Linked DNA regions of Homo sapiens: regions 1, 3, 4, 5, 6 and 7 are each reported to be linked to region 2. Evidence: microRNA targets listed by miRTarBase, many of them from high-throughput screens and not tested one by one. Region 2 holds a microRNA gene; each other region holds the end of a gene's coding sequence.
Evidence for each region. The annotated mature microRNA hsa-miR-4713-5p reads UUCUCCCACUACCAGGCUCCCA and lies in region 2 at 1,747-1,768, shown strand. An mRNA with a match to its seed (bases 2 to 7 or 8) in the 3' UTR can be bound and repressed. Matches are read on the target gene's strand: a 7mer-m8 pairs with bases 2 to 8, a 7mer-A1 pairs with bases 2 to 7 and ends in A, and an 8mer does both.

Region 1: miRTarBase lists GNG2 as a target of hsa-miR-4713-5p. Seed matches in the 3' UTR shown: 7mer-A1 at 1,792-1,798 and 7mer-A1 at 2,373-2,379.
Region 3: miRTarBase lists LTBP2 as a target of hsa-miR-4713-5p. Seed matches in the 3' UTR shown: 7mer-m8 at 2,944-2,950.
Region 4: the mRNA of PWWP2A is a reported target of hsa-miR-4713-5p. The part of its 3' UTR that is shown has no 7-base or 8-base seed match.
Region 5: miRTarBase lists CD68 as a target of hsa-miR-4713-5p. Seed matches in the 3' UTR shown: 7mer-A1 at 3,138-3,144.
Region 6: the mRNA of PXMP4 is a reported target of hsa-miR-4713-5p. Seed matches in the 3' UTR shown: 8mer at 879-886.
Region 7: miRTarBase lists FAM13B as a target of hsa-miR-4713-5p. Seed matches in the 3' UTR shown: 7mer-m8 at 3,529-3,535.

What each region holds. Positions count from the first base shown.
Region 1 is chr14:51,966,143-51,970,219 of GRCh38, forward strand. It overlaps GNG2 (G protein subunit gamma 2), which reads left to right. Exons shown (of 4, transcript NM_053064.5): 4 at 417-3,653. The coding sequence ends at 545. Among named protein-coding and RNA genes, the nearest start is that of RTRAF, 21 kb to the right of the region's middle.
Region 2 is chr15:51,240,454-51,244,530 of GRCh38, forward strand. MIR4713 (microRNA 4713) reads left to right here and starts at 1,737; the gene lies at 1,737-1,811. CYP19A1 (cytochrome P450 family 19 subfamily A member 1) reads right to left here. Exons shown (of 10, transcript NM_000103.4): 2 at 2,315-2,497. The coding sequence starts at 2,459. All of the region lies in intron 1 of MIR4713HG (MIR4713 host gene), which reads left to right. RefSeq lists promoters at 2,415-2,672, 2,475-3,452, 2,593-2,854, 2,798-2,827, 3,441-3,597, silencers at 2,673-2,834, 2,680-2,709, 2,737-2,764 and cis regulatory regions at 2,825-2,846, 3,505-3,511.
Region 3 is chr14:74,497,156-74,501,219 of GRCh38, reverse strand. LTBP2 (latent transforming growth factor beta binding protein 2) reads left to right here. Exons shown (of 36, transcript NM_000428.3): 36 at 191-3,037. The coding sequence ends at 336. Among named protein-coding and RNA genes, the nearest start is that of ISCA2, 5.4 kb to the right of the region's middle. RefSeq lists a silencer at 140-434 and an enhancer at 121-1,116.
Region 4 is chr5:160,088,701-160,092,777 of GRCh38, forward strand. PWWP2A (PWWP domain containing 2A) reads right to left here. Exons shown (of 2, transcript NM_001130864.2): 2 at 2,639-4,077. The coding sequence ends at 3,682. Among named protein-coding and RNA genes, the nearest start is that of PWWP2A, 29 kb to the right of the region's middle.
Region 5 is chr17:7,581,037-7,585,113 of GRCh38, reverse strand. It overlaps CD68 (CD68 molecule), which reads right to left. Exons shown (of 6, transcript NM_001251.3): 5 at 4,048-4,077; 6 at 3,003-3,736. The coding sequence ends at 3,603. MPDU1 (mannose-P-dolichol utilization defect 1) reads right to left here and starts at 1,262. Exons shown (of 7, transcript NM_004870.4): 1 at 1,149-1,262. The coding sequence starts at 1,251. It overlaps MPDU1-AS1 (MPDU1 antisense RNA 1), which reads left to right and starts at 1,022. Exons shown (of 2, transcript NR_136402.2): 1 at 1,022-1,196; 2 at 2,951-3,140. RefSeq lists enhancers at 1-689, 924-1,453, 690-1,564, 1,564-1,613, 1,565-2,438.
Region 6 is chr20:33,704,217-33,708,279 of GRCh38, forward strand. It overlaps PXMP4 (peroxisomal membrane protein 4), which reads right to left. Exons shown (of 4, transcript NM_007238.5): 4 at 1-3,753. The coding sequence ends at 3,490. Among named protein-coding and RNA genes, the nearest start is that of PXMP4, 14 kb to the right of the region's middle.
Region 7 is chr5:137,936,538-137,940,537 of GRCh38, forward strand. FAM13B (family with sequence similarity 13 member B) reads right to left here. Exons shown (of 24, transcript NM_001385994.1): 24 at 1,423-3,811. The coding sequence ends at 3,688. The region is part of intron 14 of PKD2L2 (polycystin 2 like 2, transient receptor potential cation channel); the gene reads left to right. Among named protein-coding and RNA genes, the nearest start is that of PKD2L2, 49 kb to the left of the region's middle.

The DNA of each region.
Region 1 (4,077 bases), not on the chromosome of region 2:
GAGGTTGCAGTGAGCCAAGATCAAGCCACTGCACTCCAGCCTGGGCAACAGAGCGAGACTGCATCTCAAAAAAAAAAAAAAAAAAAAAAAAAAAACAAATGAAGGAGACAGCCACCTGCGGGGCTATGGAAGTGCAGGGTTGACACCTGCATGCCCCTGCCAGCGAGTGCCTCCTTCGGTTCTGCACCCTAAGTGCCTCACTCACCTTAACCTAGTCCCAGACTTGCTGGCAACAATCCTGTAAGGTCAGTGTCGTCAACTTTCTTCTTTGCAGATGAGGAAGCAGAAGCTTTTAGAGGCTGAGTATCTTGCTTCATGGAGCAAGGATTTGATGCCAGGACATTGGGCTCTAAAGCCTTGGGCCTTGACTGACTGTACCAGACTCCAGTGTTGGTTGTTTTTGTCTCCCTTTCCAGGTGTCCAAGGCAGCTGCAGATTTGATGGCCTACTGTGAAGCACATGCCAAGGAAGACCCCCTCCTGACCCCTGTTCCGGCTTCAGAAAACCCGTTTAGGGAGAAGAAGTTTTTCTGTGCCATCCTTTAAGTCTTTGAGAGGGGCCTGAAGAGCCTCCGGGCTCCTGGGACATTGATGTAGAGTTTTTAGTGAAGTGGGCACCTTTCTAGTCCACGGCATTTGAAGAGAGCGAGGAGAACCATTCTGGAAACTCTAGGCTATGCATGTTTAAAGATCTGGTCCCCTTTATGAGAATGCAAGCCGATCCACATCCTGACTTAAGAGATCTGATTCTGACGAACTGCCTGGAGGAGGGGAATATATAAAAATAAAATTGGTGTCACTTCTTTTCTGCTATCCCCCAGCCCCCCCCCCAAAATCCTCATGTTTCTGCTTCATATTTTGAAAAATAACAATTAAAACAGACAGCTGTACTGAGGTAAGATATGTGTGACCTTCTTGGAATGAATATTGTCTTTAGAATACCCTTTGATAAGCTGAGCTGTCCCGTGTAGATGCAATTCGGTTTAATGGCATTGATGTATAGTCACTGTGCCTTTCTTTTTCTTTCTTCCTTCTCCTCTACCCCTCCTTCCACCCCTCCCCATTAGAGTAGTGTGGAGATAAGGCTGGACTGGTCTATCAGATTGAACTCCAAGAATGATCACACAAAATGTTTAGGGAGATGTTCCCCGTGGTGTATCCTCATGGTAACAACGACAAAAAATGCCGGTTGTCTGTGTTCTCTTTTCACTATTCCTAACATGTGTACATGATAGCTTTGATTCTGCAAGTAAAAGTAAATCCTGTGTTGTGACTGGTGCTTTCATATATTTGTGACAATTTTTGAGTAATATTGCATGAAAATGTCCCTATGTTACATCCATTCAGAAGTTTTGTTGTTTTACTCTAAAGCTGGGAAAGGAAATGAGAGGGAAAAGACCCCGGAGAGGGAAGAAAATCTCAGTATTTTGAAAATTGAGATTACTTCAGAGCCTTAGCCACACCTAAAATACCTCCTAGTTAATAGTGGTATAAATGCCTCTTCAATACGTTTTCCAGAATCCAAAGCATTTTGGTTTATCCAGGACCCAGGGCAGCACAGCTGTCACCAAGCAGGAGAGTTAAGGATTCACCATGAGCTGGGAAATGCTTTTGCCATGAGTATGAGCAAATTCCCTCTTTCCCTGAATCATGGACATTCTAGATTAAAAGAACATTTTTTTGTGCTCTTAACAAGAAAACCATGGCCCTCCTTTGTTCAAGTATCAGAAGAAATAAACCCACAGCTCCAGAGAAGGTGACCATTCTCAGAACTCCAGCTATTCACTCTCCAGGGAGAAGGACCTCAAATCGCCACTCTTTGGGCGGCAGGTGCGGTCCCCACGGCCGGCTCTACGAGGAAGAGTTCTGGCTCTTTTGTCCACTGAGATGGTCTTGGTTTTTCACTTAACAAATTTTTTAATGGAATCTTTGTTTTTGTTCTCCATCTTGTTTGTTAGAGTCTCTCGGCCTTTATTTACAAATTCCTTGCAACTAGAGCGCTCCTTCCCCAAGATATGGTAGTGAGAGTAATTTTTCATTGTAGCTGTAGTCTCCATCAGTAACAGCAGGCCCTGGAAGACTTGATCACCTTTTTCTGTGTCATTTTCAGTCAAAGAGGGCCTCTCTTACATCTTGTTTGCTTTCAAATCCCCAAATATCATCTCCATCTCCCAATTAATTTTATTGTCTCTTTCCTCTCTATTCGCTTTCTCCTGTTTTTTTTTTAAAAAAAAAGCATGAAAAAGGAAGAGAAAAAGTTTGATATGCCAAGGACAGATTTTGAAACAGACTTGGTAAATGTTTTCCTTAGCTCCTTCATGGGCATGCTGGTGAAAGAATAAATACATCCAATTAAAGCTCATGCTGGGGTCGGGGAGAAGAGGATACTGAAACATTTGTGAAATGTATGAATGCACTTCTGTAACCAGATACTTCTGTTCTTCTGTTCAAATTGTGGGGTTTTTGTTACAGTTAGGACGCCCATGAAGATTTAGGGGTGAAAAAAACAGCAGAGTATTTATTAAACTACAGCATTGTACAATTAGCTTAGTAACACTATGGAATAAGCTAAAACATATCACAGTTTTTACATGGGCCAAAACATGAATTGAGTATGTGGTCACATGAAAACACGGATGAATGAATAAAACACTCTTTGGTGGTGACTGAGGCATCATTAGAAGGCCCAGACGATTTCCACTATTCACAGCATTTCCTTTTCTCAGAAGGACTCTTTATATTTCCATGTAAATCTAGATCTTTGGAGCAATTAAGATGGAATTACAATTTCTAGGGAGCATTTTAAGGAAAATGTTTTGGCTTTTTCATAATTTTATGTCTTACAGTATGGAATTATAATACGAAAATCTTTATATGAGTTTTGGCTTCTTGGTATTTGTACTTATTCAGGGGAAAAAGTCTTTCGATTACTTATGCCTCTATAGAGCTTAATTTCTTGAGAAATTCAACAGTCATTTTCACCAGCATAATTTTATCTTAAGGAATAACTAATAGGAAAAGTCAGCTTAATTATTTAAGGCCCTAGTTTCTACATATAATATATTCGATAGAAATGAAAATCTGCCGTGGAATTAACTAATAAGTAGTAACAATAAACTTCATATTTAGAATGCAAAGTCTATAAAGAATAATTTTACATGATCCTCAATATCAACTCCAGTTTAAAAAGTGTTATTTTTAAAACATTTGAAACCAAGTACTGTTTAATTTCAATCAGAAGATGCAAATACATACTTTGATCTATGTTTGATTTTGCTAATAATATTTGAAGGAGATTGCCTACCAAGGACAAAACAATAAATTTAAAAATCAAACGATTTCTCCATACGCTCATAGTCACATATGGAATTTTGAGAAAATAAAGCATGCTGTCTTTAGGAATTTTTATACTTCTTTGTCTTTCTTCCTTAATATTTGCTTCTAGCTGCTCTTGGCAATGATGAATTGTTATGTATGCATTAATGTTTTGCAGCCCAAAAGTTGTTCACATTTTTCCTATATAAGATCTGTGGAGTGTGTGTTTCAAAGAGAGAACTACAGAAATGTTAAAGCAGGAAAACCTGAATGTGATGTGCACATTTTCATCCCACATGGACAATGTATGTGTTTTAATAAATGGAATTTTCAGATTCATTTCATATGCAGTCAATTTCATTGTGACGGCCACTGATTCTGTGGTCAATTTGAGAAGGATCTGATGGTATGAATGGATGAGGAAATAGGAATCCATTGATTTTCTTTAGGATTTTGTTAATAGAGATGTCCGAAAGAAGAAAAAACTCACTTGACACTCTAAAAGCATTTCTTACTAGGTCTGTACATCTTGGGTACAGCCTTTGGGGACAGAGAAAGGTGGGGGCTGTGAGGAGAGCCCAGGGCTCTGATAGGGTGGAGTATGCAGACAGAGGAGCTGTATTTACACTTTCACTTGCTGCAGGTATGCCACAGTGGGCTTTTTCCCTTATGAAAAATAAAGACTGAACAACAGAAGTGCTGTTCTCTGTAGCTATCTGTGATTTAAAAGGAGTACAGGAGAAGCTAAGTCCTTAGAACTCTA
Region 2 (4,077 bases):
AAGTCCCTCCAGCTTTCACTGTTCCTGAGCTTTCCTGACTCTGTGCTTCCCCTAAACCTCTAAAACCAAGAACCTAGAGAGCCACTGATTAAAGGGAGCTGGCAGGAGCTCAGGAGTATTGATCAGCAAAAGCCACCCCAAACAAGGCCAATTTTCTTATCTTCCCTCCCCCAACCAGAAACCATAGGATCTCACAGTCTGTGCTACTAGTGGATTCTAACTAGACCTTCTGTTTTCAAAAGGAAAGTGTGAAACTAGAAACTACCTGTCTAGCAAAATGATCATCAACCTGGGCTTTAGGACTTCCTGGTGGTCCCCCTACATTCCCACTTTCTGTCCAGCTGGGGAGATGACAAGCCATTTCCCTTCACTGGGCTTTAACCATTCACTTGTAAAACGACAAGTTTGAACTCCATGGCTTCTCATGCTTGTCATAGTGTTTTGTCTGGGCAAGGCAGATCAACTCCCTGGGTCTCAGTTTCCCCTTCTGTCAAATGAAGGAGTTAGGCTCATATTTGTGGCTCTCAACCTTGGCTGCTCATAAAAAATCAGGAAGGGAGATTTTTTTAAAAATAGCAACCCCAAACTAGCTGAGCTCCTACCTCAGACAGTGCTGAGAATCACTGTGCTACTTGATCTGACTGTCAGTGGATCAGCATGATGGCCCTGGCCCAGAAATGGTGGACAGAGTGAGGTGCTGCCTACTCTCCCACTGATCCAGAGCTTCAGGGCTGCTGGTTCTCAGGCTTGTCCTAACAGGCTGACCTCCTTGGTCAAGGGTCCAAGGAAATTCCACCAGTGCTGATTAACATAAGCATCTGCGGGGACTTTTTAAAAATGCATGTTTCTAGGCCTGAAGAGTCTGAGTCAAAAAGTCAGGAGCAGGGTCCAGGAACAGAAATGTTAACAAGCTCCTACCTGCTGGGTGTTCTTACATAGACTTAAAAGCTTGAGAACCTGTGGCTCACTGGATGGGCAATGCTGCGTGGGCAATGCTGGACTCTCCTGGCCTGATTGTCTGCTAACACAGACAAATTGGAATTTAGCACCTGAGCCTATGAAGGGAAGAAGAGGAAAAAAAGGCTCTCCACCCCCACCACTTACTCACCCCACCCCGACCATTCACTGACCCTGACCTAGAAGCCCCCTTGGGAGAGGAGAAATCCAGTGAGGAAGGGCCACACTGGGGAACAGAGTTCAAGTTAAAGACCATGAAACAGTTGTCCCTTAGCTCTGAGCCTCCCTTCTCTAGAGTTGACCCTGTCAGGGAGCAGAGAACAAAATTAACTAAATGTTCCTTTAAACTGGGCATTAAAGTAATCTAAAATATCAGGCTGAATCAGGCAGAGAGACAGGCAATTATCTGGAATGTTAAAAAGAATCCAGACACAGAGCATTTTGTGCTAGCCCCATGCTCCCACTTCTGATCCCACTGAGACTAGGCCCACCACACTTACCAGTGTGTAACTATGCTCTTAAAGTCTCATTGGATATCTTATGGAATTGGGAACAGATGTGTCTGCAATGAAGCATTTTCACTGAAACCTAAAGAAGCAGTCTGAAATTTCAAGTCATTCTGAATTAATCTGATATCTGATCATTGCGGCTTTAAGGGTGGAAGGGTGGGGTTTTCTATTGGGATTATCTGAATAATTATATTATTCTCTGCTTTTGATTGAACCACAGATCTTGTTGAAGATTCTCCCGGGGTATGATGTTCCAAGAGCACTGGAGTGGTCCCCATTTTTCTCCCACTACCAGGCTCCCATAAGGGTCGAATGGGATCCAGACAGTGGGAGAAAAATGGGGACCACTATCACCACATTCCCAAGAATAAGAGAAAATGATGAGTGGAATAAAGAGAAGGGATAAATACAAGACAAAGAGGGGGCATGGCGGAAACAAAGTGAAAGGGAGAAGAAAAGCAGTGAAGAAGATGTTCCAGAGACATTTTCACCTTCAGAGCAAAATTGCAATCTATTTTTTAAAAGTTAACCAGAAAACCCTGGAATTTTACTTTACTCCACCCCATCTTGAGCTTGTTTTAAAGGGTACTTGTGCCAAGTCTACTTTACGAAAGCACAGCACAGAGTGGAAGGGTTTATCTAAGATATTTTTTAAGTGCTTTCATTTAAAATGTGCAGATAATTGGTCTGAAAATTTTCTCCCAAGTCCTCATTTGCTAACACAGACATAGTCTTCAGAGATCTTTCCAGGTTTGCTTTTTGTCCTTTTGCAAAATTTTCTTTACCATCATGGACCAAAATCCCAAGTAAATAATCTCCTTAGATACAGAAATAAATGACTGACTTACCTGGTATTGAGGATGTGCCCTCATAATTCCACACCAAGAGAAAAAGGCCAGTGAGGAGCAGGACTGGCATGGTGGCAGCAGGCATGGCTTCAGGCACGATGCTGGTGATGTTATAATGTATCGGGTTCAGCATTTCCAAAACCATCTTGTGTTCCTTGACCTCAGAGGGGGCAATTTAGAGTCCTGTGGAAATCAAAGGGACAGAAAAATTACAGAATCCCCTAAAAGGTTCATCTATAGCTCCTGTTGCTTCAGAGGGTGCTGTACAGTACAGATTCACTTACTGTTTTATAATGTGATCAGACATTTAGGCAAGACTAATTTATGGTTACAAGTCAAAACAAGGAAGCCCAAGAAAGATCTTTTGGCTTGAATTGCAGCATTTCTGACCTTGGTAGAGTCTCAGGTTCCTTTAGACGCTTGGTCTGATAGAACCTTATCATCTTGCCCTTGAGTGGGTAGAGTGACGTGCATTCCCAATTGAAAGCCAAATTTCTTGCCAAATTATAAGAAAATAAAGCTCATTCCAGAGGTGGAGTCATTTTGTGACTTCATCAGCAGGTTTTGTTTAGGCAATCTTCTTCCCTTGAAGCCAAATCAATTTCAAAACAAAAAGGCAATCTCCCAACTCCCCTTTTTGACCAAAATGACTTTTTTGATCAAAATAGTAAGTTTCTACAGTAAGAACACATTTCTTGGGCATCGTTGAGGTCTTCTCAGAGCCTTCCATCAGTTTGTCTATTGAATTCAAAGTGACTCACTCAGGCCATCTCTAGTGACTTCAATGAAGATCTAAAATCTCTTGTACCATGGGCCAGATTAAACAGTATCCCTAGGGACCGGCCAACGGTAGTGTGGAAAAAAAGAATTGCAGAGGAAGAATAAGGGAGAAGAGAATGAAAGGAATGGGGAAGGAGGAAGAAAGAGAGAACAGGCAGAATAGGATGCCACCAGCAATAGGCTCAGGTGCCACTCAGGAACCTCATTCGAAGAGCAGCTAACATCCTGTGCAAGACAATCAATTTACAGTCTGATGTGCTGGTTCTGCTGTGTTTTTCAACATGCCATTGAATCTGTCTTTTCAGCCAGGTTTTGTAATCCCTTTACTCTCAGAACAGAGTTTCAGGGATGGTAGGTAGTCTGTAGCTGAAGAGGTGTAGGTTGAACAAACTTGTATAGTGAGGAAAGAGTGAGTCATCATTAAATGCATTTTCAGTGGCAGATGACATACTCCAAGGTTTGCCTTTACTTAGACAGGGCCTAGAGTTTCTGTGACTTGCAATGGCTCTCAATCAGACTTGTGCTGGGTTTCACCTGTAATAAAATTCTAGATTCACAGCCAGGGCTTCTAACTGGATATTGGGGGCTCTGTGTATTCCTTGAAACACTGCATAAAATATTGTAATCGGCACATTCTAGTGGAGAAAGGCCATAACTTTCATCAGATTCTTAAGGAGTATGTCATTATATTTCTCCTCTGATCTATATGAGATCTTAAAGTCCAAAGACTGATTTCTGTCAACTACAAAATTTTTACAACATAGTTGAATTTATCCAGTTGTTTCATCATTTTATGTTATTCTACCATTTAAATAATCATTAATGCTTGGGTGCAGGGCACTGAAAATGCACTGGAAAGGTCCTTTGAGATTCTCTCCTGAAAGCACATTGTGCTTATGTTGAGCAGTTTTGTGGTTGTTTTTTTTTTAATATATATAAGTCGAAACTAAAAAGTCAGCCTTGTGTCTGTTATCATCTGGTTC
Region 3 (4,064 bases), not on the chromosome of region 2:
GCATGGTATGAGCTTGCTGCCCCCTGCTTTGTCCTTGAGTTGCTTGGTTTTGGGAAGTGACTTCAGCCTCTGGCTGTCACACTTAGGGTTTCACTCTAGGGCAGTGGCCAGGGCTTACTAACCAGAGAGGTGGAGGCAGCCAGCAGAGGCACCTGGGCTCCCTACAGCACTCTCCTTTGTTTCCTCTTAGATGTGAATGAGTGTGATGACTTGAACGGGCCTGCTGTGCTCTGTGTCCATGGTTACTGCGAGAACACAGAGGGCTCCTACCGCTGCCACTGCTCCCCGGGATATGTGGCTGAGGCAGGGCCCCCCCACTGCACTGCCAAGGAGTAGCAGTCAGGGGTCAGTGTGGCAACTACCTGGAAATGGCCTCCAGTCACAGGCAGGGGCCTTGAGGATGATTTCCTAGCTGGGAAGACACCGTGACATCAGGCCAGAGGTTTCCAATCAGCCTTGCCTGCTTTCATCTCTCCCAGCTTAGCCTCTGGCTGTAAGCTTCGGTCATTGCCTCCATGCCCTTGCTTGGCTCAAGCACCACCAATCGCTTTAATGCTTCAGCCACCGCATGAGGCCCTGTCCACCACCTTTCCTGGCCTTGCTATGGGATGCTTACCAAAGGATGGCCCTCATCCACCCTCCCAAGCTGTGCGAGCATGCAAGGCCCCATGGCCTCACACTGCAGACACCCCTTTCCAGCCACAATCCACCATCATCCTGACGATCCCACAACTGGGACAGAGGCTACATCTGCCCTAGGGAGGTCCTTCAGAATCTGTGGAGCAAGAAAGGATTTGGGGAAGCTTGGGGACTGACTCCAGAGCCCCCTCCTAAGAACCATCACCACCACTCAGCCAATCTGTTCTGGGCCCTGATTTTGCCACACCTCCATCCTGTAGCCCATTCTCTGACCCCAAGGAGTGGCAGAAGATCCCTTCACTCAGAGAAGCAAGGCTGATATTAGCTTGTTGAATGTAAGAGACACAAATGAAGAAGAACAAAGAGCCTGAGAAAGCAGCAAGAGGACATGATGAAAAATACGTGGAGTTGATGAGAAAGGGGAGCCAAGGCTTTATACGTCTAAAGAAAATATTCAGTAGCTGAATCCGCCCAGTGATAGCCTGTGGGCACCAGCAGCAAGGGCTGCCATGGGATACAGCACCCATCTACAAAGACCTCTATTACATAAACACTGCTTCTTACAGGAAACAAACCTCTTCTGGGATCTCCTTTTGTGAAAACCAGTTTGATGTGCTAAAAGTAAAAAGTCTATTTTCCAGTGTGGTCTTGTTCAGAAGCAGCCAGATTTCCAATGTTGTTTTTCCCCTCCACTCAGAAACCCCTGCCCTTTCCCTTCAGAAAACGATGGCAGGCATTCCTCTGAGTTTACAAGCAGAGACTCACTCCAACCCAAACTAGCTGGGAGTTCAGAACCATGGTGGAATAAAGAAATGTGCATCTGGTCTCTTCTGTTGTTTTTATTTCATATCAGATTAAATTTCTTTACCATGTTGGCTAAGTCTAAATATTAGAGATGAGGCTGTGCCTACTCCCTGGCCAGCTCTGCTGATAGCCTATGATGGGTTCCAATGGGAAATGACTCTTTACTATTAAAAGACAAGGAAAGCTCTGACTTCGTACTTCTCTGATGAATGGCAATGTAAATGAACAAGGCTCCATGTGACTGGAGCATGGAAGTGAATGCTACTTTCTTAATTTAATCTGCCCTGTCCTACCTGCTCCTCTGATTGTTAGCCATCACATAACTTATTGAATGCTTGCCATGTGCCAGGCACTGTGCTGAGTGCCATACATACATTTCATTTAATTATCCAATAATCCTACTTACTATTGTTTATTCTCAATTTACAGGTGAGGAAACTGAGACATAGAAAGCTTAAATAATTTGCTCTAGGTCCCTATACTAATTGAGATGTTTTCAGCAGACAAAAATAAGTCACTCTTACGCATGTAAAAATATTCTTTCACTCATAATAAAAGAAATGCAACTTAAAACCATACTGAGATCCTTTTTAAAACTGTCAGATTGGCAAAGATCAAAAAGCTTGTTAAGACTCCTAGCTGGCAAGCATGTGGGAAATAGGTACTCTCATAACAGCTGACAGAAGTACATATTGAAGAGGACAATATGGCAATGTCCTTCAAAATTATAAAAGCACTAACTCTTTGATCCAGTAGTTTCCACTTCTAGGAACTTAACCTTCAGATATATTTTCACCAGATATAAAATGACATACGTAAGAAGTTATTACTGCATCATTTGTAATAGCTAAAGATTAGAAACAATTAATTGCTATGGAACCCTTAAAAAAGGTGGCTCTAAATTCCTTAAGAAAGATATCCAAAACAAATTAAGGGGAAAAGGGAGGGTTGCATAACAGCATGTAACATAACACTATTTGTCTAAAGAATGGGGAAAGAGAAGCGGTTGTCTGTTCACCTCATCCTTGCCACTCCGCCTTATACCTCACCATCGGAGAACTTACCATCCCCCAAATATATCCTGCTGGCACTACACCTTCGTAACTGCTGTTCCCACTGCCCCCACAACACTCCAATCTCCACCTTCCTGCCAACCTTGAGATATTGTATGCATATATACATATTTCCTTTGTTTAAAATACAAATAGCATACTATGCATGCTGTTCTGCACTTTGCTTTTTTTTTATACTTGCAATTAGAGCTGCCTCATTTCATTTTACAGCTGTATACTATTCCATTGAATGGATAAACCATAATTTATTTAATCAGTCCCTCACTGACAGACGTTTCCATTGTTTCCTGTCTTTTGCTATAAATAATGCTGTAATGAATATTCTTGTGCATATTTCACATTAATTTATGGGATTACATCTGCAGGATAAATTCTTAGAACCAATGGTGGTTTGTGGGGAGGGTGACAGGGTGGATAGGTACAGGATTGGGAGACTTTTCACTGTATCTCCTTTTGTATTTTTTTGAATTTTGTACCATATGTATCACCTATTCAAAAAAAATAAAATATTTTTAAATACAGTTGCTGGCCAAAGATTGCTTAAATGCTCCTTCTCTTTATATATTTATCTGACTATAATTTACAACTAAAGCCAGGTGCTAATTATGTCAAAATTCCTTAATGCAAATTTGTCAGGCAGCCCTGTGGCATTTTTATGAAGAGTGGAAAATACGGATTTTAAAAGAACGATCATAAACATCAATGCTAGATAGGAAGAAAAATAGAAGAGATTCCTTCCTTTCAGACAAAACATGCAGTGAACAGTGTTAGGCCCTGCCCAAAGCCAGCTGCACAACATTAGCTTGGGTCCAGATTTCAAGGGAGAGCTGTACCACCACGATCAGTGCTGCCCACTTCCCTATACCAGGTTGATCCTGCCAAATGCCACCCCTGCACTCTAATGCTTTATAACAAACGACAAAACAACAGAGCTCGATTCTCAGAAGTTACAGAAAGAAGAGTCTCTTCCTGAACACCTACTTTAGTAGTCCTTCCTAATCTTTTACTTCTCAACTTCTTTCCTCCTATCCCTTGTAATCACTCAACATTCCCATACGAAGAAACTATGGGTGGGCCAGGCATGGTGGCTCGTGCCTGTAATACCGGCACTTTGGGAGGCTGAGGCAGGAGGATTGCTTGAGCCCAGGAGTTCGAGACTCCTGTGCAACATGGTGAAACCCCATCTCTACAAAAAATACAAAAAGTAGCTGGGCTTGGTGGTGTGCACCTGTAGTCCTAGCTACTTGCAGGGGCTGAGGTGGGAAGATTGTTTGAGCCTGGGAGGTAGAGGCTGCACCTCTGCACTCCAGCCTAGGAGACAGATTGAGACCCTGCCTCAAATAAAAAGAAAGAAACTAAGAGTGGATGGGACACATAATTTACATACCCTTGGTCACTCTCATCACATAACTCAAGTATGGTACCACAATAAGATCTGGGCATTGACCAAGAGACCTTCTCTTTGAAAAACAACATAAAGTCTCCACCAATGGAGACTTCCTGCTGCCACTTCTGGTTTCCCAATGAAGCTTTCTCAGTGTGAAGTAA
Region 4 (4,077 bases), not on the chromosome of region 2:
ATCAAAACATTAATTTTTCTAGACATTTGCCCATCTCTTTGGCTGTAAGTACTAATAAAAGTGAAAGCATGCAGCACAAACCATAGAAAATTAACAACTTAAAAGGGAAAACCTAATTTTAGATACAAATTATAGACTTAAGGTATTTCCAATTCCCAATTCAGTTATTCTAGACTTGTGACCTTTTAAACATAAGCAATTTTTAGAAAAGTACAACCTGCTTAAATAGGAGTGTAACTCAATTTAATATGTTGCAATTTAGATACTCAGGCTCACTAGTGAAGATATATTCATTTTGTTGATTTTAGTATCAGTTCCCTGTTCTTTGCCTCCAGTCTGTTTTCACATCAAAATTCCTGCCTATTCAACTTAGTACTAATCTACAATTACTATTTACAGATTTTTTTCCCCATCAAAACCATCTAGGGACACACCACCACGTTATGCAAAAAGGCTCCAGACTAGTGAATCCCAGTTTCTCTATCACACTGATATATAGGGTTTTTTTTCAGAGCCAGGGTCTCACTCTTGCCCAGACCAGAGTGCAGTGGTGTGATCATAGCTCACTGCAGCCTCCAACTCCTGACCTCAAGCCATCTTAGCCTCCCAAGTAGCTAGGATACAGGCGAATAGCTGGGACTATAGGCGTGCGCCACCATGCCCAGCTAAGTTTTTATTTTTCTGCAGAGATGGCAGCGGGGACGGGGGTCTATGTTGCCCAGAGTGGTCTCGAACTCCGGGCCTCAAGCAATCATCCCACCTTGGCCTTCCAAACTTCTAGGAATATGGGAATGACCCACCGCACCTGGCCTCTCACAGATAATTGTTTGGTCTTTGGTTCCACATCTGTAAATGAGAGTTGAATGGATGTTCCTTCCAAATGATTAGTCAGCTTCCTGGTCTATAAATTCTAGAAAGTAAAAAGGGAAAAATACTCTGATGCTTTACATTTCTGAGAATTTCCAGAAATAAAGACATTCTTAGCTTTCACAACTCTTCCTTCACTTGGTTTCTCCCCTGGCCAATCCTTTGTTTTAGCCACGACTCTTACTTAAGCCGCAGATTTGGTCTAAGCCAGTTTACTCCCACTCCAAGGGGAAAAAATACCCACTTCTGTTATCTCCATATCAAGAATAAGTGCCTTTTATCATTTCAAAGAGAAATATAAAGTGGCTACAACTACCCAATTCAACTCTATCTCCATCTGCAGTAGATACTGGACAAATTTATCTAAGACATTTCCATTGGAATAAAAGTTTTTAATATTCAGCTATTAGAGTTTAGAATACACATTTAAGATTAGAGAGATTCTTTAAAACTTGCTTCCCTACTGAAACTGCAAATGAAATATGCCAGACTGCCAGTTTAAAACGAAGGGGTCATTTGGCATATCATTTGTGATATGCTCAACCTTTTCCTCAAAGGTGTGTTCTACAAAACTGATTGTTATTTTTATATTCAACAATCATGTTTTTTTTTTCTTCTCTTTCCCCATGGCTTCTGAAACAAATCCAATTTGGTTTATGCCACAACAGCACATTTACCAAGCACTTGACCATATCAGTAATGTCTACTTCAAACTACTGTTAAAACTCACCCAGATCATTACACAAAGCCTTGGAATTACATATTTTGATGACTTTTAAGTCTTTCTGAACTTTAGATTTCAAACTTTTAAAAACACCTGATTGAACAAGTTCATTAATCTGAAACAAATACTTGGAAAATCTTTTAGGATAGTTCCTTATAACTTCTCAACCACACTGTGAATTTCAAAGAATTTTTTTTTTAAGTATAGTTGTTTCTGTTTGCAGGAAAGAATATGTTCTACTCAAGTGAAACATGTTTTCAAAATGTGTGTTTATTATAATCAAAAAGCATTGAGTGAGTTCCCCATAAGAAATTCTACTTGCTTCTGCAAAAATTCGCAATCAGTCAATAACCTTAAGAAAGCTGACAAGACTATTGATTTTCAATCTCCATTAATCTTTTCATTATGAGTTCCATAGTAACTACTTCAAATTGGATTTAGAAATCCACAAAAAACTGCTAAATTTTAAATTTCTAAAAGTATTGAAATTAGATATCCAAAAGTTAAGACACAAAGTATGAAAGCAACTTTAAAAATCTTGAGATAAACTTGCCTCCACAGCCAATCAGATATATTTCTCACTACTAATACAAAGCTAAAAATGGAAAATAAGAAATCAAATCTTAGGGACAGATGGACCATGTAGAAAAATAGTAAGCTAAGTTACTAGCCCCAAAAGCAGTGATACATGAGGCAGAAAACCAAACAGAAGAGACCGGTTGTAATTACCCGAATGTAAAAAAAGGAAGCATGTGATGAAATATTAAGACTAAAAATTAAAATTCACACATTTATGAGAAATTGGCAGGAAGGGGATATCAAATCTAAAAGCATTATCAAACCTCTATACTACAAAATCTTATTTTGAGAATATACTGATTCATCTCTCATTATTTGAAGTTTTCTTATCTCAGATAATATATTCCCTGATAGGGCAAATAGCAAAATAAAAGTTTGATTTTTCATCTCTTCTAAACACTCTTACAAAGAATAATTTTCTACCATCTTGAAATTTTTCAAAGCTTTTTGAGAAACACACACAAATAATTTGGATTTAGTTGATTTTATTTACAGCTTTTTTTTGGTTTTTTTTTTTTTTTTTACATTTCAGAGCATTACACAATTACATTTTCTCATTTTCTGACCTGCAAACAGATACCTTAAACGGAAATTATTTTGTTTTAATTATCAAATTAGGTACATCCAAAATGCAACAATTACACATATGACAATTAATTCACAAAGTATAATTTTACTGGGACATATCCTAAGAATTTAGGAACAGCCAGTCAGGAGAAATCTGACCAAATTTAGCAATCACTATTTACAAATCCAAAATCAAACCTATCTAAACTCCCAAACCAGAAGCTTGAAAGTATTTATTAAATCCCCACTGGACGAAAGACAGTGATGACTAACACCTATCCAGTCTTGACAGTTTTAATCCCAAACACTGGGCTATTTCCCCAGTCTGTAACTGAATTGCAACCATCTGTTTGTCAAACACCTAACCATCTAACTTTTACACCATTATGCGCATAGAAAGGCTAAGTGTTCATTATTTAAAAAACAAGTAGTCATTAAATATCCACTATTCCCCCAGCTCACCAAGCCCTTATTGCAATCCCAAATATGCAATCTGTGTCACACAGTGACAGGCTGTATTTCATATATATATATGTGTATATATACATATATATGTGTGTATATATACATACACGGATATATATATATACACACACACACACGTATATATATGTATATATACAGTATTAGGTACAAATGGCAATTAACAGTCCCTACAAAAATTCAATTTCAGTTGAGGCTATGGCTCCTATGCCTTGGGATGGTTTCGAACTTCAAAACTGAAAAATACTGCTAAAATCTCACTTCCTTAACACAAAATTTGATTATATGTTCAGTTTAAGCTCTCAGTCTAAAAATGGCTATAAGGTAAGTATTAAAAAGCCAGCCAACTGAGTGCAACTTCTCTCTCCAATCTGGCCACGCTATTTTGTAGAAATTATTCCTAACTAGACTAGAAAATCTGTGGTGACTTCCAATGGTCTTGCCTACCTTACTGCCCATGTTCACGTTTCAAACTGTGTCAACAAAGCCCGCACTTCGGGGGTCAGCTGCTTGGCAGCCTTAGCTGCCTCTGTGATAGCCTTGCGATACAGGCCCTTTCTCTTCTTATTAAAGCGTGACTGGAAGTTTTCTAAAAAGGGGGAGAGTTGTGAAAGAGCAAGGAAAGATGTTGTTGGAGACCCAAACCATGAAATACGGGCCTCCTGTCGGACTAAAAGGCCGTTATCTTTCCGGCTCACAGTTATAGTAAGAATACGGGCTGGCCACCAAGGGAAGCCATATATCTTGGCCCAAACAATGTCCCCTACACATATGGTCCTGCCATCTGGTGTGACGCATTTAGAGACGTTTTTGGAAAAGACTTTCATTTTCAAGGAATTACTGAGCTTTTTCTCTTC
Region 5 (4,077 bases), not on the chromosome of region 2:
TGCCCAAGAGCTCTCTGATCCTTTATTTCCCTTCTCTGGGCCAATGGGTGCCCCATTTCACATGTCTTCTCTCTCCAAAGACAAGTCTTCATACCATTTTTTTTTTCTTATTTTAATTTTGAGACGGAGTTTCACTCTTGTTGCCCAGGCTGGAGTGCAATGGCACGATCTTGGCTCACTGTAACCTCTGTCTCCCGGGTTTAAGCGATTCTCCTGCCTCAGCCTCCCGAGTAGCTGGGATTACAGGCGCCTGCCACAACGCCCGGCTAATTTTTTGTATTTTTAGTAGAGGCGGGGTTTCGCCCTATTGGCCAGGCTGGTCTCGAACGCCTGACCTCAGGTGATCCACCCGCTTCGGCCTCCCAAAGTGCTGGGATTACAGGCGTGAGCCACCGTGCCCGCCCCATACCACTCTTTCTTGAACACTCTGACTGTCCCTGGCCCCTACTCAGGGACTAAACCTTACCCTTTCAAGGCTTGCTTTTATGCCCTGGCCATCCACAACTTCTCTAGCCTTGAAGCCTTCCCCTCAAGGAACTTGGTCTAGTGGGAGTCTGACTCTCACGGGTCATGAATGCGGCTAAAACAAAGTGCCCCACGAGCTCAAGAGAGGTACCATGAACTGACAGGGGCAGACTGACGCTCCCCAAACGGTCTGACGGTGACCCTTGTGGAGCTGTCTCGCAATCAGAAAAAGGAAGGGAGGCAAATTATTCCGAAATCAGACTATGAGCAAACCTGGAGGCTGGAAAGAAAGCAATCAGGGTGGCGGAGCCTTTGGGGGTGCAATGAAGGCCCGATTCATCAGGGGCTTTGAATTAAGTTTAACCCTGCTAGCGATCTAATAAAGGTTGGCATGATTTGACTTAATTTTTATTTTGTTTTATAAAAGTTGACTCTTCGTTTTTCATTGTCGCTACAGCACAAACTCCACAAAGAAGTAATTCCACCCGGTGACTTCCCCACTGGCACTAATATGGTGTCCTCCCTCTAAGGAGCCCGAGACACTTCCGCCCTTCTCAGAAGTGACTTCCGTCCAGCTCGGCATGGCGGCAGTCACTGCCGTCACTTAGTCGCCGATCAAGGCTTGGACTAAGGGCCCACGGTCACTCGAGTAGGACTTGGATCGGATGCTGAATAAAACTCACCGTGAAGCAAGTCCCACTGAACGAAAAGTTGGTCGTAGCATTTCTCAGGTAAAAGAATCGGCACGAGCAGCCGTTTAAGCGGTCCGTCCGCCTCGGCCGCCATATTGCAAAGCTAGCTTCCGCCAGTCTCTCCAGACCGCCATTGACTTTCGTTGCGCGTGCGCGCTGCGGACACTCCGCCTCCCGTTCTTTTCCCGCGGCGAAGCTGGCCCGCCCCGTGCCCCGCTCTTTCTGACGCTACCCACCCTCACTCTAGTGGCGTAAAATAAGTCTCAGTCAGGGACCACGTTTTGGACGCGCTGTTGGAATTGTAAAGCTTGCCGAAGCTGCACGCCTGCGCGGTTAGACCTCCCACGCCTTTGTTGACGCTTCCAGTTTGGAAGCCAGATTTACACCCCTGCCTTTCTCCGCTCCTCCTGCTGGGCGCCATCTTGTCTTCTCCTAGCACACTTTGTATTGTTCGAAGTTGAGAGAGAAGGAGCCGGAGTCTCCGAGGTGGCGTTGGGTGGGGGCGCTACTAGCTCCCGTTCTCTCAGCGTCTCTAGAGGGAAGGGCGCCGGTGGGAGCAGGAGAGTCTGCACCGGGCAGGCCTCCTTAGGTGCCGGGTTGCGCGCAGGGCCCTGTGCTTGTCTCGCCTCCGGTTGGCTCAGGCCTCGGAGCATGAGTGCGCCGGCAACTGCTGGGCCCGGGACAGTGAAGCAGAGGAGGAGGTGGGGGAGGCGAGCCCAGGTCGGGGAAGGGCAGCACCTGAATCACCCTTGGGGCCCAGACCCCCAAGAGTCTCCGGGGAGCCGAGGCCTGGCGAGGCAGTCCCGGGATTCGCCCCCTCCCCGCTGGCCCGAGGGCGCACCACGTGCTGGGCAGAGACTTCGGCGAGGCCGAGTGGACCCTGCAGCGCTGCTTGGGAAAGGGCACCTTGGACTACCTGGTGGGGGCGTTGTGCTTCGTTACCGACCGCCGGGACGCCAACCCACGGTGCCCACCCGTGCGTCATTCCGCTGTGGATCAGCCCTTTGGCGGCCCCCCTCCAAAGTCTACAAGGTCACACGGATGTCTGCAGGCAGAGGTGGGGCTGCTGGGGCCCTGCCAGGTGAGGGCTGCCCTTGTGGGGCAGTCTCTGGGCCTTGGAGGCCGGAAGCCTCCTGGGGCTCCTACGGCTGGGGGGTGCTGCTCATCCTGGCTCCCAGGGATTGCGCCGTAGCCAGCTGTAATGGGTGGGACTGGCGCTCACTGCTGGTGCAGGCTGTGGCCATCTGGGAGGTCCTTTCTGGAATCTGGACCTTGGCTGTCCTGAGAGTGACACTCCTCATCTCAAGTACTGGGGGCATGAAGTTAGGCTTGGCAGGTGGCCCCGTGTGGGGGGCATGCTGTTCCCAGGAGCCCCCAGTGGAGGTCAGAGTACCCACTGCTCCTTCTTGATTCAACCCCTTGTAGGTGGGATAGGAGCATGCCAGGTGCTGCGAGGGTTTAATCGGGCTCTTCTGCTGGCCTTGAATATGGTGGACAGGACAGGACATTCTCATTGCTCAGGAGCCACTGGCGCTGCCTTTGGGAATGAAGTTCCACAGCCCCCCACTCATTGCTTTGGCTGTCTGCTGCATTTGAAACTGTACGAGGGTCAGGAAGAAGGCTGCGGGGATGAATGGCTCTACCGGCTTGCCACGGATGGGGAACTGGAGCAGCCAGTGGCCCCAAGAGGAGGAAGGAAGGGAGGCACGGCAGACCCAACACCAGCTGTGCCAGGCTTTGGGGGGTGAACCCATGAGGCATCGTCACACACTGACATTTTCATCCCTCCTCAGCAGCTGCTTCCGGCTCCCTGAGACCCAGCCATGGAAGGCATAGAAAGGCATGTGACAAGAAACTCATGGCTTTTAATCCTGGCAGGACAAGGAAAACCCCGTCAAAGATTTGCATAAATTTTGCTGCTCTCCTGCTGGGGGGGGGGGGGGGGCAGTTCGTCACATTTAATAAAATTCTCTCCCTCCCTTCTCCCGACTGCATTATCTCATATTTATTTATTTGAGACAGTCTGGCTCTGTCGCCCAGGCTGGAGTGCAGTGGCGCGATCTTGGCTTAGTGGCGCGATGACGGCTCACTGCAACCTCCACCTCCTGGGTTCAAGCAGTTCTGCCTCAGCCTCCCAAGTAGCTGGGATTACAGGCCAGCTGGGATTACGCCGCCACACCTGGCTAATTGTATTTTTAGTAGAGACAGGGTTTCACCATGTTGGCCAGGCTGGTCTCAAACTCCTGACCTCCAGTGATCCACCTGCCTCAGCCTCCCAAAGTGCTGGGATTACAGGCATGAGCCGTCATGCCCGGCTTTCTTTTTGTTCTTCAAGAAAGGGAAGGAAAATAACATTGTCTTTGAGCCAGTTGCGTGTCGAGGAAATAAGGGTACCCCCCCACCACACCCCAACCCCCTCAGTGCCCTGGGGTTTGAAGCAAATGCTCAGAGGGCCTGGTAGGCGGATGGGCGTCTCCGGATGATGCAGAAAGCAATAAGCACCAGGGCGAGGAGGCCAAGAAGGATCAGGCCGATGATGAGAGGCAGCAAGATGGACCGGTCACTGGGGCAGGAGAAACCTGGCGGAAGGATAGGGCAGGTAGGTATTTGCAGTGACGTGCTGGTTGGGATAAAGGTGGGAGGAGGGAATGGGGGGATGCTGGGGAGTAGGAGATTGGTGAGGAGCTCACCGCAGTGACTCAGCAGTGATAAAAGGGGGAAACTGGCAGAGTCTTGTAGAGGATGGAAAGAAAGCTGCCCTGTAGCCATGACAAGCTGGGAGAGCGAGATTTGGGGGGTTAAGAAGAGAGATGAGTGGCTTATGGGCCTGGGGAAGGGGTTTTCAGTGCAGTGGGAGGATTCTAGGAGGGAAGGAGTAGGTAGGTCTTACTTTGCCCAAAGACCCCTGTGTGGGGCAGCT
Region 6 (4,063 bases), not on the chromosome of region 2:
TTTTCCAGCAACTAGACAGTCCCATCAAGGCGTGACGGGAGACAGTGACAGATCATCAGGCATTAGATTCTCATAAGGAGCATGCAACCTAGATCCCTTGCATGCGCAGTTCACAATAGGGTTTGCATTCCTACGAGCATCTAATGCCACCACTGATCTGACAGAAGGCAGAGCTCAGGTGGTAATGTGAGCAGTGGGGAGTGGCTGTACATACAGATGAAGCTTCGCTAGCTCACCCACCTTTCAACTCCTGCTGCGTGGCCTGGTTCCGAACAGGCCATGGACCGGTACCGGGGTTGCGGACCCCTTACTCTAGAGCTCATTCAACCTCCACAGCAAGTTAAAGGAACTTCATAATTACCTACTCCAAGTTTGCAGTAAATGTTGTGGCTGAAAACACAGCTTACAGAATCAGACTGATCCCACCTCAATTACCTAAGGGCTCTGTGACTCATTTGTCAGATGGGATAATAATGGACGGCTCCATATCATTCCCCACCCCCTTGTTACTCAGAGCAGCACCACTGGCAGCACCAGGGAGCCTGGGAGAAATGCAGACTCTCAGGCCCCACCCCAGCTCACTGAATCAGAAGCTGCATTTTAATAAGGTCTCCAGTGACTCCTGCATACATTTCTACTAGTAACTTCTAAAATATAGAAAGAGTGATGGAGTAAGTATATTAATGAAAGTGTATCTACCAGACCAATGGTCTCAAATTGGTAGCCCATGGACCAGATTTTCCTGGAGACTTGTTTGATTTGTCCAGGATTGTGTTTTTTTTTTTTTTTTTTTTTTTGAGACAGAGTCTTACTCTGTCACCCAGGCTGAAGTGTAATGGAACTATCTCGGCTCACAGCAGCCCCCCAGGTTCAAGAGATTCTCCCACCTCAGCCTCCCAAGTAGCTGGAATTACAGGTGCCTGCCACCATGTCCAGCTAATTTTTGTATTTTTAGTAGAGACAGGATTTCGCCATGTTGGCCAGGCTGGTCTCGAACTCCTGACCTCAGGTGATCCACCCGCCTCGGCCTCCCAAAGTGCTGGGATTACAGGTGCAAGCCACCGTGCCTGGTCTAGGATCGTGGTTTCGAAAAAAGCAGACTTGGCCAGGCATGGTGGCTCACACCTGTAATCCCAGCATTTTGGGAGGCCAAGGTGGGTGGATCATGAGGTCAGGAGATTGAGACCATCCTGGCTAACACGGTGAAACCCCATCTCTACTAAAAATACAAAAAATTAGCCGGGTGTGGTGGCGGGCACCTGTAGGCCCAGCTACTCCGGAGGCTGAGGCAGGAGAATGGTGTAAGTAAACCTGGGAGGCAGAGCTTGCAGTGAGCCAAGATCGCGCCACTGCACTCCAGCCTGGGCGAGAGAGCAAGACTCTGTCTCAAAAAAAAAAAAAAAAGAAAAAATCAGACTGGTACACAAGTCTCCAGTTCCCTATGTCCCCATCACTCCTCATCGCATAGCACTATGTCATTGTAGGCCCCTATGGGCATTTGAATGTGTACCCCTTTCTGGCCCATATCCTATAATGAGCTAACATTTGCATAGCATGGCTTAGGTTTCTAAATTTGAAACAAGGCACTGGAAAAAACATGGGCTTTGAAATCAGACGAATCTGAGTTCAAATCTTGATTCGGCTGTTATACTAGCTGTATTACCTTGGGCAAGTTACTCTCCTCTCTGATTCTCAGTTTCTTTTCTTTTCTTTTTTTATTTTTTTTTTAGACACAGTCTCGCTCTGTGGCCCAGGCTGGAGTGCAGTCGTGCGATCTCAGCTCACTGCAGCCTCTGCCTCCCAGGTTCAAGCGATTCTCCTGCCTCAGCCTCCCCAGTAGCTGGGATTACAGGGACGTGCCACCATGCCTGGCTAATTTTTGTATTTTTAGTAGAGATGGGGTTTTACCATGTTGGCCAGGCTGGTCAAGAACTCCTGATCTCAGGTTATCTGCCTGCCTCAGCCTCCCAAAGTGCTGGGATTACAGGCGTGAGCCACTGCACCTGGCCTGACCCTCAGTTTCTACATCTGTAAAATGGGGACGAAAACACACATTTGCAAGGCCACTGTATGGTTTAAAAATAATATGTGCAGGCTAGGGGCAGTGGCTCATGCCTGTAATCATGGCACTTTGGGAGACTGAGGCAGGAAGATTGCTTGAGGCTAGGAGGTCGAGACTAGCCCTAGTGACAGAGCGAGACCCTGTCGCTACTTAAAAAAAAAAAATAATAATAATATGTGGAAAACACCCAAGTGGAAGTATGAATGCACTAAATGAAAGTAATTAGTAGCACATCAGTGGTAGTTGCACAAGTCCAGTGAGGACCACGGCATTATGATTATCCTCATTTTATGATAAATTGAGGCTCTGAGAGGTCCAGAACCTTCCCCAAGGTTACACAGTGGGGGAGTGGGGACTCAAACCCATGTCCTCTAGCTCTAGATCTGCACTGTCCACTAGAATAATCTGTGAGGATACAAGTGTTCCATATCTGTGTTGCCCGTCACAGCAGCCACTAGCCACATGTGGCTACTGGGTCCTGAAAATGTGGGTGGCAAAATATACACCCAATTTTGAATACTTAATACAAAAAAGAGTACAAAATATCTAATGATGTTAATTATATGTTGAAATAACTTTTAGAAATTTGTGTTAAAATATATAGTGAAGATTAATCTCACCTTTTTTTTTTCTTTGGTGAGACAGGGTCTCACTGTCGCCCAGGCTGGAGTGCAGTGGCGTGATCTTTGCTCACTGTAGCCTCGACCTCATAGGCTCAAGTGATCCTCCCACCTCAGCTGGAACCACAGGTGATGGAACCCGGCTAATTTTTTGTATTTTTTGTAGAAACTGGGTTTCACCATGTTGCCCAGGCTGGTCTCAAGCTCCTGAGCTCAAGTGATCCACCTGCCTCAGCCTCCCAAAGTTCTGAGATTACAGGAGTGAGCCACAGTGCCCAGGCTTCTTTTTTGTAATGCAGCTACTAGAAACATTTTAATTACATATATGGCTCACGTGTTTCTATTGGACAGTGGGAATCTAGAACTTCTCCAGTAGAACAGCATCTGAGATAAGGAACTTAGTGTTTTTTAAAAAGTATTTACAACCCACTGCCCACCAGCAAGGAGCCCTCTGTGACATAAGAACAGTTGAAGAATGAACATACCCACCGGAAAGAGACCTCAGGGCCCTCCTCTGAGCTCCTTGACCCCTGAGGCCTAGAGAGTAGTGTGGCTGGCCCCAGTCTCACAGAAGTCAGCTGCACAGCTGGAACCAAGCCGTAGATTCCTCAGCCTGATTCGGCCACTTGTGCCACCATACAAAGGTACCCACTGGGATTTTAAAATCAGTGTTTTTACTTCAGCAAACGGAACCCTGGGATAACACCAGTTGGAGTCTGAGGCCTATGATCTTGAGAAGGCAGTATCCTTTGGGAGGGTCTGCATGGGGCCAAATCTTGAGCCACAGCCAGACACCTCAGGGCTGCATTAATTGGAGGGACGGCTCTTGTTATAGACGAGGAAGTCTGAGATGTCGTGCCATACATTGCTGTCCTCATAGAGGTAGGTCATGGAGGACTGCAGCGAGGGCTGCAGGGTGGATCGGTGATACTCAAAGAGCCACAGCACCAGCCCCCACACCACCGCAGTGAGCAGCGGGAACGGGTCCCACCTGGGTTCAGGGATGTAGCCCTTCTCTACAGCCAGGCGGCTCAGGGCAAACAGGACGCGTGACAACAGGTACATGTTGATCTGCAAAGAGGGAATGATGGGAATTACTGGTGATCAATAGTGATGTCCCTCTTTTGTTTTTGATATTAATAATTTGTTTCATTTCTCTTTTTTTCTTAGAGAGCCTGGCTAGGGGTTTATTTATTTTAATTATCTCTTCAAAGAATCAACTTTTGGTTTAGGTCCTTTTCTCTATTGATTTCCTGTTTGCAATTTCATTGATTTCTGTACTAATTTTTTTTTTTTTTTTCTGAGACAGAATCTGGCTCTGTCGGCTAGGCTAGAGAGAGTGGGCTTACTGGATCTCGGCTCACTGCAACCTCCACCTCCT
Region 7 (4,000 bases), not on the chromosome of region 2:
CTCCACCTCCCGGGTTCAAGCGATTCTCCTGCCTCAGCCTCCCGAGTAGCTGGGACTACAGGCATCCGCCACCGTGCCCAGCTAATTTTTTGTATTTTTAGTAGAGACGAGGTTTCACTGTGTCAGCCAGGATCGTCTCGATCTCCTGACCTCGTGATCCACCCGCCTTGGCCTCCCAAAGTGCTGGGATGACAGGCGTGAGCCACCGCACCCAGCCCATTGAGCATTTCTTATTCATGTATTACTTCATAAACTTGTGCCCTTTTCAGGCACACTTTAAAAAGTACTCAACAACCTATCATCAAACTATCCTTAGGGTCAGAATGAAGTGCCTCTGACAGGGACTCACTATACAATCCATGCATATTATGACAAGCCTCCAGTATACACACACTGGTACAAAGGATTTTATAATGAGGTTTATTATCAAATTCTAGAAAAGTGAAAGTACAAGAAAATGCTTCTAGTTCAGGCGGCAGGTCTCCAGTAGTTCAGTCAGTAGGTAGAGAAAGACAGTTTTCTCATAGTTACAGAGTAGAAAAACTATTGATGCTATCAAGTGCGTCAGGTACCATGTTCTGAATTCCTTTGGCCACAGATAAATTAATAAAGGCTTAGGATTCTGGGAAACCATTATATAAGACCCAAGTAAAGTAACCTCCCTCCATTCTTTAGAATTTGAAGCCTTCTGGAAAAAGCCAAAGTGTAGAACAAACTCCCCAGCCACCTACAGAAATCTCACTAACATCTTCAAACTGGAAATTTACCTAGACCATTTCTAAGGTGTAATGCATTTAAGGTTTCCCAAAAATAAAATACAGAGCAGGGTAGGCGTATCACTGTCATAAGTTATGTTTGGAAAGTGTAAATGAGGATGCTGTAACAGCCTTATTTGGAGGGTTGGAAAGTTGTGTGTGGCTGGCATTTTGGAAATTGGAGAGAAACTCTTCTAATTTTTCTAGGCTATGTAAGCCCCCCTACGATAGCCATATGTTCTCTTAGCCCAAGCAACATCATTTGACCTCAGCACTCAACTTCCACATTGATGCTCAATAGTTCCTGAATTTTAAAACTCAAATATAAAGACATTTTTAGATTACTACTCACCTTCCTCAGGACAAGCTCTTCTCTTAAGAGACTGTACATCCAGTGTTCTTAATAGGATAATTCATTGTAACAAGAAATGCTAACTGTTCTCTCTGCGGCTTCTCCCTAGATCTGCACAAGGGAATGAACAACATGGCCTTTCCCTGTCTTACCATTTCCCAGAGTTGTAGCCAGCCAAATAGTTTAGTGACCCTGTTGTTCCCTACCATCGCCCCTGGGTGGGATCATTTAAACAAAGCCTAAGCTGAGGGAACACTTGAGGTCTTTTTTTTTTTTTTAAGCCCAGTGGAAAAACAAACATACATTTACAATGACTTAGAACTTTCAAGTTCTTTTATTATAAAAGTCTGTACAATGAAGTGCCAGACACAGCAATGCCATTATACTGGTGGACATATATATCTATATATTATTTGTATATAGATATACAGTTTTTATTTGTACCAAAGTAAAACTATCACCAACTGCCTAATTCTACCAGCTACTGCTCAACTATGACACACAATACTGTCACAGAGCATAAGTGCTGCCATGCCACTTTTACATATTCTACTCACAGCCAAACATTAACATTGAATAACATATTGAAGCAGCTGTTAATTCTAAAATGAAACCAGTCAGACCACTGACTTATAAAAATATGGTACTCATATAGATTTAGCATTATAAAGAAGGAATATATTATTTAAAACATTTAAATAGTGCATATGGACATTTTTGCATGTGGTATATAAAATAAAACATTCATATAAGATACACAGTGCACATAAAATTAGATGTTTGGATACACTCCTATCTGGAGACTGAAGGAAATTATCTGAAATGTACACTGCATGATGGATTCAAATAAAAATGATACATCTTTTGGTATTTTCAATTTCACTTTTCTAGGTATACATTATGAATAACCTAGTTGTATCAAAAGGAAACCACACAAAAAGGGCAGGATTTAGTGCTTTTCTTTATTCCCCAACTACACATTCACTACCAGGTTTTCCCTCACCCCCCACCCCCCAGAAAAAGGCATTGCACACACGGGTGAAATGTGAAGTACTAGAACTGCTATTTATTATCAAACTACTTCATGTGCTTACTATGTAATAGTGCCAGAAGTCTGAGGTTCATGCTTCCCTCACCTTATTAAAGGATGTTGCAAAATTCCATTTTTATATGGAATAAATTGTTAATATTAGCTAGTTAAGAAAACCATGCATGAGTCATTGCATGCAAAACATGGGTATAGTCAAAGTGAGACAGTCATCAATCCAAAAAAGCACCAGAAAAAAAAGTTAACACTTAGATTAAGCCTGACCCAAATCTGCTGTTGTACTGTTAGCACAAATGAAGTCACCATTCTGTAACAATGATTAGCAGAATGATACCGAGACAGTACCTGAAGAAAAGCCATGCAAAGCCAAAGGAAAAAAAGATATGCTAAGAGTATATGACAAGGGGCATACCACTACACATCCTGTAAACAGCTGCTTTAAACAGCATGTTATGATTGACCAAAGGGTGGTCCCTTAAGAGGGCGTTGTTGTCGTTGTTTTGGTATGGATTTTGCTGATTAAAATAGGAGGGGAAAAAAAAAAAGATAACCCCCTGAAGGTACATGTGAAAATGCAGTGGTAGAGCCCTTGTTAAGAACAGATTTACTTTAGGCATAATATTTTGCTGATTTAAGCCCATTGATTGAACACACAAATCTGAGCACCATCAGAGTTCCTACATACTGACATGGCTATTTTCTCACATTATCTGGAGGTGGGTTGGGGAATAGCGCGGATCTGATCCAGACAAATCACACCATTGCCAGCGGATAAACAGTAACTCAGGAAACAGTAACTGAAGTCCCATAGGCAGCATGTGGTATGATTCAGTTCTGTGTGTGATGTGTGGTGTGTGTTTTCAATATACTAAGCGAGGTCACCTTTTGGTCTACCAACTGTTATCTTCATCCGGGAGCTGTGTGACCAGCGAATTGCAAAATTTTACTAACATACTACCTGTGAGAAGATGTCACTTTGGGAATTAAACAGAAAGGTGTTCCATAGTACGACTTGAAATCTCAGTTTGATTTTGGTTTTCTAGGAAAACAGAGAACACAGTTGCGTATGTGCACTTTTATAGGCTTTTCTTTCAAATTTTCAGTCATTCTGTAAGAAAAAGGCAACAGAAGAATTCAGTATGAAGATTTTCCTCCAATTTTCTTCAGTAATGAGAAACAAAAAGTTGGTAATAACAAAAAGCTTGCATTTCCAAAGTTCTTGAAGTTGAAAGGATAAAATTCCAGTCTTTTGCTAAAAGGATGTATCTGTAGTACAAAACAATGAAGTAAACCATATGTTTGCTAAAGGTGGAGAGGACAGTCTGTGGTTAATATGGAACATCACTTACGCTCCCTTGAGAGGGCCTACTTACTCTCCCATCATTTGTTTTGTTTAGTGGCACCACAACCAAGTACAAAATGAGATTCTCTGAGTGCCTGACAAAACGAATTTAAGTACCAGCCAAGTACACACGATGATAGCTTCAAGGAATACAACTGACTTTATGATATGAATTTTCAAGGAACGTATCTTATATGGATTTTGAAGAATCTTGTTTGCTTATAAGAACTTCAAGAAGCCTAAGCTTGGCTTTAATTTTCTTGTACTCTCTGTACTCCTCAAGCACTGGAACACGATCCTCTTTCTGGGCATTCCTAGGGGAGAAAATAAAATTTGTAATGTTCTAGAGATCATTTGGAAAAAAAGATCCAAAAGTTGTCTTAATATGAGACATACTGTTACTAAACATAAGTTCAAATAAAAAGTTGTTCTGTTAAAAAAAAAAAAAAAGGTTATTGAACTAATACCCTCATCCCCAAGGAACACTTCTAAAATTTTTGATG